Regions from separate parts of the Homo sapiens genome. Here regions 2 and 3 are each linked to region 1. The links come from fine-mapping of genetic effects on gene expression. A gene starts in region 1. Each other region holds a variant in brackets. All regions are shown on one strand. Distances are between the middles of the regions.

Region 1 (2,767 bases):
ACTATATTAACCCTGAAAATAATTAAAAAACAATTTCAGATATAGTTCAGAAGTAATTGTGAAAAGAGGTGAGATTAGGGAAAGATGACTCTGAGTCCAGATAACCCCAAAAAGCTTTTTAGAGAAGGATGAGGGTGGGGAGGCAGGTAGGGGGTTTATAATAGGATTTAAAAAGAGAAGGAAGAGCTATTTAAGGAAATTTGATTACTGCAAGTAACATTCTTCAAAACATTTAAAGAAAAACAAAAGTTTGGCAGGCAAGACTAGAAAAAGAAAACAACACTGGGGAGGGAAGTCACTGCTTCTTTTATTTCCATGACTGTTTTAAAGTCATATTTAGTTTCAGCCAAGGAAGAGCCTTTGACATCAGAGCACACAAAGTACTCTAGGAAATGAAGAGGATGAAAGTTCTACTGCATCAACGCCCAGAACTTTCTCCATTTGGCCACAGGTCGTTCTCATACATGGCCTAGTTTCTATGCACTCTAACTGGGTCCCTCTGAGGCTTGTGAATGGAAAACCCTCTTGCTTTCAAATGCTTGAAAACAAGAAAGATGCTACTATTGATGCCTCAAATACATGTAGGTATTTAGTGGGAAGCAATTAAATGTTTTGAAGGTCATTTCAAACGGAAATTAATCAAAAACAGTATTTTACTCTTTTGTGTATTAGAGTAGGCAAGACCTTGGTGTTTTCATTACATTCTCTGTTTTTATTTGCTGTTTACATTAGGATGTGAATAATGGCTTGGGTAAGGGGAGGATTTGGTACCAACCTAGGCTTTGGTTGCCAAACAGACACCAGAGTAAATTTGTGTGTGGTCAGAATCAGGTTGTAAGGTGCCAACACAGCACATGGCTTCAGTCTTTTTTTCTCTAATTGTAAAAGGACCTTGTCCCCATGGAGGGACCATTGCCTTGGCTTGTGGGGTCTTGAGTGATAGCCACAGTCTTTCTTCAGCACTTTCTCGACCTCATGAAAAGATACTGAAGCTTGAAAAGGGGATGTTCTTTCTGAATAGGAATGGAGAAGAGGGGCCAAGCAAGAATGATTCTATCTGTCTCCTGGCCGTTGATAGTGTCCCTGTACAGAGAGGAAATAACGTAGTATAATATGTAGCTTATGTTTGAATCAGCTTCTTTAAAAATACTGGAATTTTATTTATTTATTTTTGGTAGACACAGGGTTTCCTCATGTTGCCCAGGCTGGTCTCGGACACTTGAATTCAAGCAATCTGCCGGCCCCGCCGGGTGTGCCGCATGAGGGCGCGGGCCGCCCAAGGACCGCGAGTGGGGCCGCGAGTGCTGAGCCCGGCGCGCCCGAGCCGCTCCTCCTCCCGGCCTGCTCCCTGGGCGGAGCCGGGGCAGTGCGGCTCTGGGCTGGCCGAAGGGGTGGCGCTGCGATCCCGCAGGGCAGCGACGCGACTCTGGTGCGGGCCGTCTTCTTCCCCCCGAGCTGGGCGTGCGCGGCCGCAATGAACTGGGAGCTGCTGCTGTGGCTGCTGGTGCTGTGCGCGCTGCTCCTGCTCTTGGTGCAGCTGCTGCGCTTCCTGAGGGCTGACGGCGACCTGACGCTACTATGGGCCGAGTGGCAGGGACGACGCCCAGGTGAGGACCGGCCAAAGCCTCTCCCGAGTGGGAGGCCGGGCTCGGAGCTGCCGAGGCGTGTCCGGGTCTCCGGGGGTTCTGCAGTGATCCCGGGTCCTTTGTGGGTTGCGTGGAGCTTCCCGAAGGCCCGGCTGCCCCTTACGCAGGGGCTGCGGGTTGGGGAGGAAGAGGCGAGGGCTAAAAAGCCCCTTTGTCTTCTGTACTGGTCGGAAGATGGCATGGACTTGCCATTCAGGCTAGGAAACCTCTCCAGGGAGTGCCAAACTGTTAAGAGAGCACTGGAGTCGGCGGTGCTCCTGAGGACTCTGACATCTTACGCAGGACTCAAGGGATTCTGGTGTTGTCTCAGAGGACGATACTTTGAGAAACAGTGAGCGTCCCCCTGCGTTTGTAAGGGAAACTCCTTTGTAAGTACCGGAAGCCCGGTCGTTCTACTACCTGAAGTAGTCTGTCCTCCACTTCCCACTCCTGCAGTTTTGAAATAAAATCTGAGATAATCCGAAGTCCTTCACCTACTTACTCATTCTAGTCAAACACTAGAAAGAACTAAAAATGGCAGTTTGCTGGAGCGAGATCATTATTGGCATACTGCCTATCTCACTTTATCTGTGTCTTGCTTAATATTTGACATCGTGTACATTTGCTGTATGTTGGCTCAGCGCTTTACACACATAACATTTAACTTTTACAACAACTCTTACAAGGTAGGCATTATTAATCTTATTTTCCAGATAGGGAAACTGATGTTCAGAGAAATTAAATGACCTACCGAAAGCTAGGCTTTGGATCCTTAAGGACTTGGGGAAATGGGGTTTCCCTGGACCAAGTTTCTGGTATAAAAATACTCAAAGCATGTTACAAAGTTTGCTTGGAAGAGATAGTAGCTCGAAAGATAGACTATGTTTGGGGGGGGCGTTATGGGTTGGGCGTTGAGGGGGGTGATATTGATCCCAAGGTGAGAATTGGTTCCTGTGGACAAAAAAAAAAAAAAAAAAAAATCTGGTAATACAGTGGTTTGTGCCCCTCCAAAGCTTAACCCCACCCGAGAAAATATTATTCCTTAGTATTTCATTTTTCTGGTTGGGTTTTCTTGGGTATAGCATGTGCAGCACTGACATTGAGTTCACGAAAAATACACAACATGGACGCCACAGCAGTGC
Region 2 (2,767 bases), 22 kb after region 1:
AAAGGCCACATCCTTTAATACTGTTGCTTTGGGGATTAAGTTTCGACATGAATTTTGGAGGGGACAAAAACATCCAAACCATAGCAACATAAATGTATAGAATATTTCACACAAAGCAGAGTGCTGGGTAATGACCAGATATAAAGAAGTATTTGAAATGACCTTACCTCCAAGATGCTTATACTCTTAGAAAAGTTGACAGGTACAGATGGCTGTAATTTGAAGCAGCAGGTAGGATTCATTGCACCTATTATTCATTAAACACCTGTTGTATGTCTTCTACTGTACTGGAGTGCTTAGTATTAGTTAATTAACTCATTCCTCATAACAGCCCACTAAGATAGATGGTATTACCTACCTTGATAGATGAAGAAAGACCAACAAGGTTTTACTTTTCCAAGGTCAAGGTCACAAAGCTAGTAAGGGGTAAAGCCATGATTAGATTCAGCTCAGGAAGATTCCACTGGCAACTCCTTACTTCTACTATTATTAATTTTACTTTAACATTTAACACCTTACAGCAGAAAACATGCACAGGCACTAATAGGAAATCAGCAGGAGTAACAGGTAAAGAAAAACATGGTCCTTATCTACAAGCAGTTCACAATTGAGCTGGAGCCAAAGTAACATACATAAAATAACTGTAGAATAGTTGTTGGGCAAGTTGGAAGCCACCCAAGTGGCTGTCCTTGGAAAAGGGGGAAGATGACATGTGGTAGAGGTACACGATGAGGTATAGCGGGTAGAAGCAATGGAATAAATGCATACATAACAACATGGATATGTACTAGAGGCATAGTCATAAGTGAAGAAATAAAGAAGCAACGCTAACACAATACTGTTCACATACACAAATATATGTGCACAGAAGATAGTGCTCATTTTGCAAGAAAACATACAACCTAATTAGATATATATTTAGGTATGGTAATAGTTACTTAGGATGGGGAGGAAACGGGGTGAACTATGGGGATAAAATATAATAAAGAGAGGACTCTTGCGTGACCAGTGATGAAAACTGGAATAACAACATTATTTATTGAATACAACACACCAATTATAAGAATGAAAAGATTGGAATAATTCTAGAATGCCACAAAATAACATATGTCATGTGGCCTGGTACAGACTATAAGCATAATAGTTCAGAAAAGGGAGATTTGCAGATAGAATCATGTGGAAGCCCTTCCTGATGAAGGTGTCACTTGCACTGGGCCTTGAAAGAAAGGAATTTAGACAGATGAAGAGAAGCTTCAGGAGGCCAGGTTCCAGGTCAGTTTTGTTTTATTCATCACTGAATCTCCAGTGCCTGCCTAGCATTGTGCCTGCTGATGTCTGTTCAACTACTCCAGCCAATGA[A/G]TGGTAGAAGAGGTATATATAAATTAAAATCTTTAAAGATTCATCTGTATGGCATTTTTTTCTTTCTTTCTTTCTTTCTTTTGGAGATGGAGTCTTACTGTGTCGCCCAGGCTAGAGTACAGTGGCACTATCTCAGTTCACCGCAATCTCTGCCTCCTGGGTTCAAGCGATCCTCCTGCCTCAACCTCCCAAGTAGCTGGGACTACAGGTGTGCACCACCATGCCCGGCTAAGTTTTGTATTTTTAGTAGAGACGGGGGTTTCACCATGTTGGCCAGGCTGGTCTCAAACTCCTGACCTCAAATGATCCACCCGCCCTGGCCTCCCAAAGTGCCACCGCTCCCGGCCTGTGTATGGTATTTTTCTATGGCATGTAATTTTCTGTACACACCCTCTTTCTTTCTTAGGCTTTTTTGTCAGCAGCCCAAGATGGAAAAGGCAGCTTTATGTCAAGGTTCGCCAAAGACAGTCAAGAGCTGTGAAAGCCAAATGTTCACATTTAACTTTTTTTAAAGTATTTATTACTCGGCATCAATGTATTTCTTAATCATTATCCTGAGTGGACTTTTAAGTAGGAAGAAAATGGTGTGTTCATTACTCCAAAGCTGAAACACAGTTGGGGTTGTGTAAGGTGACAGCAGGTGAGTTGGTAAAAGAGTTAGCAGAAGTGACGGCTTTCGTTTCCTCAACTACTGGATTCACCAGTAAGCCACATGAGACCTCAGTCACAATCGGTAATTCAAAGGTAGATTTAAATATAAATATCCTGTTATTTCTGACACCTTTACTGAGGTATAATTGATGTATGATAAACTGCATATATTTAAAGTGTACAATTTGTTAAGTTTTGCCATATGGCTACACTTGTGAACCATAACCACAATCAAGAGAGTAAACACATATATCAGCCCCAGAAGTTTCCCTTTGCCCTTTTGTAATCATTTCCCCTCGCCCACCCCATTCCAGGCAACCAATGATGTGCTTGCATTATTATAGATTAGTTTGCATTTTATAGTTTTACATAAATGTAATTATACATTTTGTACACATAAACTGCTGGCGGGAATGTCAAAAGGTACAATTAACTTGAAAAAGACTTTTAGCAGTTCCTTAAAAATTTAAATATACACTTATCATATGATTTAGCCATCCCAGTCCTAGGTATTTGCCCAAGAGAAATGAAAGCTTATGTCCACATAAAGACTTGTAAATGAATGCTCATAGCAGCTTTACATAATAGCCCAAAACTGGAACCAACAAATGTCCATCAACAGGTGAATGGTATAAACAAACTGTTATATTCTATACCATGCAGCACTACTCAGCGATAAAAAATAATGAATGATTGATACATAAAACAACATGGAAGAACCTCAAAGAAGCCAGGGCATCTGGGTCTGGAGATTTCT
Region 3 (2,767 bases), 25 kb before region 1:
TCCATAACTCTGCCAGCATTAAATGATTAAATTGTTTTGCGAATCAGTTATAAAATAGTTTTTTAATTTTTCTGATTATTAATTAAATTCCCCTCAAGTTTTTATGAACTAATTTTATATTCATTTACATAAATGATCAGTCCACCTTCCTTGCCAATTTTTCTGTTAGAAATATCTGTAAATATATTTATTAATATATTTCTTAGGGATATACAGGAACTTTTCTGTACTATAGAGCTTAAACTTAGTTGTCAATGTTTTAATATTTCAACATCTATCAACATCTAAATGCCACAATCATTTCTGTGCAGAGTGAAGGTCAGGTAGCCTCAGCTTGTCCAACTCTGGCCTTTGCATCTTTTCATTGCTGTGATATTGTTTATTCCAAGAAGCAGCTGGTCTCTGTTCCCATGCATTGACATATGCCCAGAGAATTTCAAGGCACTCCAGAAAGAGAAGGAAATATGAATCCAAAAATCACAGTATTTGTTTGTTTTGTGTTTGTACACATTACATGAATCAAGTTTTGTAGGAAGCATAAGGACATTATCCCTTCAAGTGGCTAAGATAGATGCTCTCGGCTCAGATGGTATTTTTTAAACAAAAACAACAGACTTGACCTTGATATTTTTCTCTCATCTTCATTGTGGATTGATGAGACAGGCAAGGGAAATACTATTTGTTCTTTATGCCTAGATCCTTCATCCAAAGGATTCATTAGTTTACAAACATTGACCTCAAACTGAACCCAAGTCCTATTCTCTACTCCACTCTACAAATGGCCATTTTACATTAAAAAAACAGAGCTAAGTAATTTTATTGAGCTTATAAATACCTTAACAACAAAGCCAGGAATTGGATATTTCTGTTTTCATCCCTTATTATTATTATTTCATATACCATTTATACAGAAGTGTACAACTACTATCCACTTACATTCTCCAGAACCAGGGCATTAGGCAGCATTCTTTGGGGCACCAGTCTGTAGTCCTTTCTCCTACACAAATAACATTTTTAAAGGTGCAGGTTATCTCCTAGACTGTTGGGCAAAGGCCCAAATCCTTCTGGAGCAATCTGCCCGTGTTTTCTGACACATAAGGATTTGCTCGCTAATGCCGCCCATGTCTCTCTGGAAGGACTTTGATGAATGAATGGCATTTTCCACTACTTGGTGAATTGTGTGCTCCTGTGGATAATAAAAATAAATCCAACCAACATGATTACATTTCAGAGAAGAGGTGACAGAGCAGGGAGCAACCAATCAAAAGTATCTAGAGCACCAAATTATGCC[C/A]CAGAGGAGTCATCTTGCATATCCTTGGTTCTGTTTCCATGGTAGTAAGCATTGCTTGGTATATTCAAAGGCAATTTAAATGCATTTAGGCCGCAGCTTACAAGGGGATAATCTTGGGAAAATCAGAAGTGAGTAAACATTAACAGCTAGTAAAATAAGCAGTTTTGAAAATTGCACTCCATCTTGCTTGCTTTTCTGTTTAGGGAAAAATATTTTTTTTGACATCTGGAAATTATGTCTGCTTCTAACTTGGGCTTCAGATGACTCATTTCAAGACAGTGCCACAGTTGCCATATGCTAGACTGCAGAAACTTGAGGCTGCTTATTTTTTAAATTTAATTTTTTAGCTCAAAGGTATGAATTTGCATTACTGTTCTCCCCAGGGCCAGCCTGAGGAGTGTGCAGACCAGGCCTGGAGGGTCCCCCTCTCTGAAAATACAACTCCTCACTTATGCTGCAGGGCTAGAGATTCACTTCTTTAAGTTCTGCGGGCTTTTTAGCTTTTCAGAGTCTCCAGGGGAAATTCAAAGGCACCTCTGCGAAGGAAGCTTAGACTGGCACCTTAAGCATCACCAGTTGTTCTCTGCTAACACCCTGGTAGGAACCTGGAAAGAAGACATGAAATAGACACAGAAAAAGGAAGAAGGGACTGGAAGAAGGAAGTGACAGTAGCAAAAACAAAAAGCCTGTTTTCTCATTTTTCCCCTAGAGCATTTCATGATTGTAATAATGGGACAAAGGCCTTGTGTTGCTCTATTTATTGTATAATTTTGTTTAACAGATACCTTTTTAGCACTTACTGTGTGTTAGATACCAATCTATGCGCTTTATAAATATTGACTCATTAATTCCTTATAACTACCTTAAGGTATGAACACTTTTATTATCTCCACTGGGTAGTTGAGGAAACAGGCACAAAGAGGTTGAGGTGGAGGGTCTCAAGGTCACAAGCTAGTAAGTGGCAGAGCCAAGATTCTGCATCGAAGTCATTGGGTGCCAGCATCCCAGCTCTCAGCCGCTATACTCTGCTTATATACTAACCATATATGTTTTCAATTCTTTTTGAAAGTGTTGGTATTAGAAAATGTGGATGAGAAGTCAGCTTAATGGTAACATAGCCAGAATTTATAGCCAGAATTTGGCTTTCAGTTGGAGAATTATAATAATGTCTATAGCGGACTGGGAAGGCCGAGTCCTGGAATTCTATTCTTCGTCTGTTTTATGTAGCACTTAGAGAGCTAGAGCAACTCATAACCTCTGTATTCATCTTTGGATGGAGATTTTGAAGTTCATCAGATAAGAATTTTAATTTTCAAATAAAAGAGAAGTTGAACTTTCCCAAAGGGCATTTGGGCATTAGCCCAAAAGTGAAGGAAACTTCACTTTTTGATCATTCAAAAACAGAGAATAATGGGATGGGAGAATAAAGGAGGGGGCTCAAAGTATTTTGTGGAATCTGAAACTCTTCTATGTGGC

Alleles and levels. Positions count from the first base shown, and alleles are read on the strand shown. Sizes are in standard deviations (SD) of each study's normalised expression. Not every link is listed here.
For the expression in minor salivary gland of the gene that starts at base 1,386 in region 1, A is the high allele of the variant in region 2 and G is the other (moderate effect, 0.42 SD a copy in GTEx).

What was found. PIP is the estimated chance that this variant, and not a neighbour inherited with it, causes the effect.
Region 2: its variant is the best candidate, but not a certain one, in a credible set for the expression of DHRS7 in minor salivary gland (GTEx, PIP 0.59).
Region 3: its variant is the best candidate, but not a certain one, in a credible set for the expression of DHRS7 in fibroblasts (GTEx, PIP 0.71).

The regions. Positions count from the first base shown.
Region 1 is chr14:60,164,017-60,166,783 of GRCh38, reverse strand. It overlaps DHRS7 (dehydrogenase/reductase 7), which reads left to right and starts at 1,386. Exons shown (of 7, transcript NM_016029.4): 1 at 1,386-1,607. The coding sequence starts at 1,475. RefSeq lists a silencer at 1,153-1,422 and enhancers at 1,623-1,672, 1,863-1,922.
Region 2 is chr14:60,141,639-60,144,405 of GRCh38, reverse strand. PCNX4 (pecanex 4) reads right to left here. Exons shown (of 11, transcript NM_001330177.2): 11 at 1-2,767. DHRS7 (dehydrogenase/reductase 7) reads left to right here. Exons shown (of 7, transcript NM_016029.4): 7 at 1-287. Among named protein-coding and RNA genes, the nearest start is that of DHRS7, 22 kb to the left of the region's middle. The variant A/G (reference allele first, on the strand shown) is at 1,360.
Region 3 is chr14:60,188,933-60,191,699 of GRCh38, reverse strand. No RefSeq gene overlaps it. Among named protein-coding and RNA genes, the nearest start is that of DHRS7, 25 kb to the right of the region's middle. RefSeq lists an enhancer at 1,681-1,800. The variant C/A (reference allele first, on the strand shown) is at 1,292.